2 separate regions of the Homo sapiens genome follow, and region 2 is linked to region 1. The links come from fine-mapping of genetic effects on gene expression. A gene starts in region 1. The other region holds a variant in brackets. All regions are shown on one strand. Distances are from middle to middle. Region 1 holds the start of SHISAL1 (shisa like 1). Region 2 has its middle 48 kb from the start of SHISAL1.

Region 1 (2,903 bases):
CACCACTGTGATCCCATTTTACAGATGAGGAAGCTGAGGCCTGGGGAAAGGGGGACTTGAGCGAGAACACACAGCTGAAAGGGGCTTAGCTGGAAACCCCAACCCTGCTGAAGGCCCTAGATGCCCCACTGTCCTCCAGGGGGCCACACTGGGTCACAGGGCGAGGGGCTCAGGCCAGACTCAGTTTCCTCCCCTATTAAAGGGAGAGCTTGGCCGAGACAATCATGGGCCTTCTTCAGCTCAACAACCCTTTGTTTCTCTCTGTCCTCCTGAGTTATTTGGTTGCACCATGGAGATAAAACAACCCCTGGAAATCCCAGAGGCATTTTTTTCCCACTGGAGAAACACAAAAATATCACATGAAGAATGAATCACTTAAAGTGTCAGGGCAGGAAGAGGAAAGACAGGCATGGCGCTCGCCTCGGGGTGGGGGTGGCTCTGGGTTTCTCTTCAGCTCCCTCAGCCTCCCTGGTCCCCAGAACCCCTTCCTCACTGGAGTGAAGAGAAGCCAAAGCCCTAAGCCTCAGTTTCCCAATCTGTAAATGGGGACAACAAACCTGCCTTGAAGGCGTATTCGGAGGGGCCAATGCATTCATTTGTTCGTTCATTCATTCATTCATTCATCTATTCACTTATTTCGTACCGGTGTGATGCTGGACTGGGACTGCAGACTCTGAAGTGGGTCGAACAGACCCACCTCACCCCCGTGAAGCCAACCAAATGCCCTCCAGGCCATGACTAGGGCATCCTGAGAGCACTCCCTAGGCCATGCCGGACCCTCCCCCGAGCCTTTGGCCTTCTCTCCAACCCCTCTCTATGCAAGGCTCTTGACACAAGGACACTGAGGCACAGAGACGGTCAGCAACTTGCTCAAGGTCACACAGCAGGTAGGTAGTAGCACCAGCATCTGTGCACCCCCACAGGGCTCCCACCCCTCTAGATCAGAGCCTGCTCCCCATCTTGCCCCACTGGCATAGCCGTCACCCCGGCCCCTCCCATTCTTCTGTGACTAGGAGTCACTTAGCAGCCTTGCCTGGCTTCTCCCTTAGACCCAGTGCTTAGCCAGGGCAGGGACCCCAGGGTCAGCGTGAAGGAACAGAGGTGCCCCTGCACAGTGAGGACCTGGAAACCTCCACAGGCTGCTCCTTACCTGCCGAGCCCTGTGACTGAGGGATCAGAAGCCCCCTCCGCTGGCTGCGGTCTCCCTGCAGCTGCTGGCCTCTTCCCCGGCTCCTGGTTGCCACCAACCTTAAACCCCAATAAAAGGAGAGCAACTTGGTCGAGCCTTGTATAGGCAAAAGAGTGTTTTCCAGCGCAGGCTGGCCTCTGTGTGCTGACAAGAATTCAGTGTGCTCCTCAGGGCGGGGAGTGGGGCTAGGGCGCTGAGTCAGCCCTGCAGGAGTCCAGCTCCCGCCTGGGCCTAGGGCCGCCACCTCCCAGGCCCAGGATGGCAGCGGCTGCTCCCGCAGTCCCCACGCACTCCAGCCTCTGGTCTTACAGCCTTGTGCATCCTCAGAGCACCAGCAAGAGCCCCATTTTACAGGTGAGCAAACTAGAGACACTCCCTGTGAGATCCCACAGCTAGAAGCAGCAGGGGCTTAGACCCAGGGCACCGGGCTCCAGGTCCGCACCTCAGCAGATGCTTGGCACAATACATGTGGGTTCCCTCCCGTGGCCCTCAGTCTCTGTTGGGCAATGGAGGTCAGTGGCACCACTGCACAAGCCCCTCTGGCCAGCATGGCCCGGGGAGGGGTGTGGGTAAAACAAACGGTCCCCACACCAGCCCGGGGAGGAAGGGTAGCTGGGACCCGAGAGCCCACAGAGGGTGTGTGGCACCTGCCTGACTCCAAGCTGGGCTGATCTTCCTGCTGTTGCCCCCCTACCCCTGGCCTGTCCCCACCCAGCAGCAGAGGGTCCTCCCTGCCAGTAGGAATGGGGTGGGGATGGGGCAGGAACAGGGCGGGGGATGCCCACACCTGCCACTGTTCGAAACACATCAGTGGCTTCCATGACTGTCTGGACACAGCCCAGGGGCCTGGCTGGCCTCTGCAGCCACACTTCCTGGGTGCCAGGCACCCCCCCAGCCCATGGCCGTCTCCCACCCCTGGGCCTTCGTGCATCGTGGTACCTTGGCGGCGCCCTTGGCTGGCTTCTGGGTGGCATTTAAACGCAGCCATAAAGGAGGCCAGCCCTCCTCTGCCTCCCACCCATCCCTGGAAGCCTGCCCATCCTGAGCCAGGCCAGAAATAAACCTCCTTTTTCCATTCCTTTCGGTGGACAGAGAGCGAGTTCAGACTGGTCTGGGTGCCCCTCATCTAACCACGGTCCCAACAATGGCAGCCCAGAGCGATGGGTGCCACGATGGGAAACCAGGGGGCTATGGGCGCCCAGAGTGCCTGATGCAGCCTGACGGGGTAGGGGCCGGGAGTGGGGGTGGTATTTATTTAATCTTCATGATTAGGAGGGGCTGTGATTATCCCCAATTTACAGATGCGGAAACTGAGGTACAGAGTTTCAGTAACTCGTCCTGGGTCGCCTGGCTGGGGACTCAGACCAGGGGGTCTGGTGTGGACACCTGAAGGATGAGTCGGGCGGTGGGGCGGGGGTGGGGGTGGGGGAGTGTTCCTGGCAGAGGGAACAAGGCACACAAAGTTCCTCCTGCCTCTTGTCTGGGGCTCAGCATAGCAGCAGAGAAACAAAAGGGCTCTGAGCTTGGGGTTTGAACACGGGTTCAAGTCCCTTGCCGCTTCTCAGCTGTGTGATCCTGGGCATGTTTCTCTGTCTCTCTGAGCCTGGACTGCCCTGTGGATTTTGTTATAGTTCAAAGCAGACCTCCTGTGCACCAGATCTGGAACACCTATGACATAGAAAAGTATGGGTCCGCCAATGACATTTACTCCTTG
Region 2 (2,903 bases), 48 kb after region 1:
GCTGAGGCAGCCTTCAAAGCTATCCGCTGGCCGGGTACAGTGGCTCACACCTGTAATCACAGAACTTTTGGGGGACAAGGAGGGCGGATCACAAGGTCAAGAGATCGAGACTATCCTGGCCAACATGGTGAAACCCCATCTCTATTAAAAATACAAAAAGTAGCTGGGCATGGTGGTGTAAGCCCGTAGTCCCAGCTACTTGGGAAGCTGAGGCAGGAGAATCTCTTGAATCCAGGAGGTTGCAGTGAGCCGAGATCGTGCCACTGCACCCCAGCCTGGCGACAGAAGAAGACTCCGTCGCAAAAAAAAAGCTACCCTGCTTTGCAAAAGCTCTCTCACCTTGGCTCCTGCCAATCCCCTCACTGCCTGCAGGACACAGGCTTCCCCCAAGCCTATTCTCATTCCACAGATGAAGAAACCAAGAAAGCGAGGCTCAGAGAGGCAAAGCAGCCCACTTAAGTCTGGCAGCCGGTGAGGAGTACAATGGAGACGCAAGTGTGGGCCTTGCCCTGCCCCACCCGGGGCTGCAGCAGGGTGGGCTGGGAAGGGATTTCTGAGACTGAGAACGGCGTAGGCAAAGGCTCAGAGGCAGGAAGGGGCCTGGAAACCCAGGGCACGCGAATGTTGGGTAGCATGGTGCCGAGCTGGGAAAGGCGCCTCTGGGGAGAGCAGGTCATGCCCAGACTGTGGCCCAGGGTTTCTGTAAATGGAGCTTCGCACAGTAGGCCCACGGCAGCCAGTGTAATTTGGAGAGAAAATTCCAACCGGATGAAAACAAATGTTCTTTGCTACTGCAGCTCCCTGCCCTGCAGGCCATCTCAGGCTGTTACAGCTGGCGGCCGGCTGGAGACTGCGAGCGGCAAGGAATTCGGAGCCAGGGCCAGGGCAGTGCTTCATTCCAGTGGAAACGTGTGCTAGCTGCGGATTTCTGGGTGGTGTGGTATGGGCTGGAGCCGGCTGGCATGGATGGAGGCACGCAAGGACGTGTGGGGGCTAGATCTGTCCCCCCAGGAATCCCACCAGCTTCCGTCATGACTCAGTTCTGGGACAGCCGAGGGCTTAGGAATTGGCTTGGGCTTTGCAGAGCAGACGTGGAAAGGTCAGCTCCACACTGGCCCAGTGTGGAGGCTGGCAGGGCCCAAACCAGAAAGGAAAAGTGGCCTGGCTCTGGCCTCGGTGATCTTGGTGTTCGGGTGTGTGCCGGCGAGCCTGCCTTCTCATCGGGGGGTGTGTGTGCCCCCAGGGCAAGGACTGTGCCCAAATGTGTCATTGTCGAATTCATCCAACAACTTCCGAACAGCAGTTGTGTGCCAAGCCCAAGCGGGCACTGCGGGTGCCAAGGTAAATAGGTCTCAAGTTCTGTCTCCTCCCAGCTCCTTCCAGCACTGGGCTCCCGACTGGCACCGTCAGGCTCTGGAATGAACCAGGCCTGGGTTCAATTCTGCCTCAGCCCTGACTGTGAGAGCCTGGACAAGTCACTGTCTCCCCTAGACC[T/A]GGCTTCCCCTGAGAAGGGCAGGGGTAAGGGTGCTGTCGCAGCAGTTACTGGGGTAGTGATCCTGGAGTCTCGAATAACTCAGGCTCTTTAAATCCTAGAACTCTGATGAATCACCCATGCTATGGGCTCGGTTATGGCCCCCAAAATTCATGTGTTGAAATCCTAACTCCCATACCTCCACATGTGGCTGTACCTGGAGACAGGGCCTTTAAAGAGGTGACTAAGTTAGAATGCAGTCAATGGGGTGGGCCCTAATCCAGTAGGACTGGTTTCCTTATAAGAAGAGGAGACTGGGACACAGACACCCACAGAGGGACAATCAGGTGGCCAAAGACACTGGGAGAAGGTGGCATCTACGCACCAAGGAAGAGAGGCCTCAGGAGGAACCACCCAGCTGGGACCTTGGCCTCCTGAGTGGTGAGAAGATGGCTGTCTGTTGTTGAAGCTGCCCCGTCCATCGGTGCTGCCTTGGTATATGGCAACTCGAGCAAAACACAAGCCGCACTGCAGACCTTCTCAGGCTGGAGTCCCCCTGCAGGGTACCCGCCGTGGGCCCCTGGCTGGCAGTTTTACTGGGGTTCAGTTCTAGAGGAGGCAGGGCTCCCAGCCCCAAGCCTGTCCAAGACGATTCTCTACCCAGAGGATCCCAAATGTTTCTCTCAAAGGAATGCCTTCCACCGTCCCTGACAGAGCACAGCCAGGGGTTAGTTATAGCCAGGGGTTAGTTACAGCCAGGAGTTAGTTACAGCCAGGGGTTAGTTATAGCCAGGGGTTAGTTATAGCCAGGGGTTAGTTACAGCCAGGGGTTAGTTATAGCCAGGGGTTAGTTACAGCCAGGGGTTAGTTATAGCCAGGGGTTAGTTATAGCCAGGGGTTAGTTACAGCCAGGGGTTAGTTATAGCCAGGGGTTAGTTACAGCCAGGGGTTAGTTATAGCCAGGGGTTAGTTACAGCCAGGGGTTAGTTACAGCCAGGGGTTAGTTATAGCCAGGGCCCGGCTTCTGCCTCCAGGGACTGTTCTTAGGGACGCTCTAGTTCCAAAGATACTTTCGGCCGTAGCATCCTGGTTGAAAAACCACATAGAGGAACAAGCAGTTGAGTGAGCCCTGGTGGGTCCATTCAATGGAGTCCAAAGTAGCTTACACCAGTTGGTCTGAAAGTTACACCCAGGGAAATGCAGAAGGTGACCGATGCCTATTGAATGACCCTCCAAGCAGCGCCTGGCTCCAAGAAATGCTTTCTGTAAGTTATCTTGTTTATTTTTCTTCCTAAGGAAGCTAGATATTTTTGTCCCTATTTTACACACAAGACTAAAGAACATCTCAAAGGCAGGGATTTGGTCTCCCTCACTTCCCTTCCCAGCACCCAGGACCCAGCACAAGGCTCCATCCAGTTGACCATAGCAGCAA

What was found. PIP is the estimated chance that this variant, and not a neighbour inherited with it, causes the effect.
Region 2: its variant is fine-mapped to the expression of SHISAL1 in lung (TOPMed, PIP above 0.99).

The regions. Positions count from the first base shown.
Region 1 is chr22:44,311,601-44,314,503 of GRCh38, forward strand. It overlaps SHISAL1 (shisa like 1), which reads right to left and starts at 1,351. Exons shown (of 5, transcript NM_001099294.2): 1 at 1,151-1,351. It overlaps LOC101927499 (a long non-coding RNA gene), which reads left to right and starts at 1,411. Exons shown (of 2, transcript XR_244444.3): 1 at 1,411-1,543; 2 at 2,821-2,903.
Region 2 is chr22:44,359,935-44,362,837 of GRCh38, forward strand. No RefSeq gene overlaps it. Among named protein-coding and RNA genes, the nearest start is that of SHISAL1, 48 kb to the left of the region's middle. The variant T/A (reference allele first, on the strand shown) is at 1,495.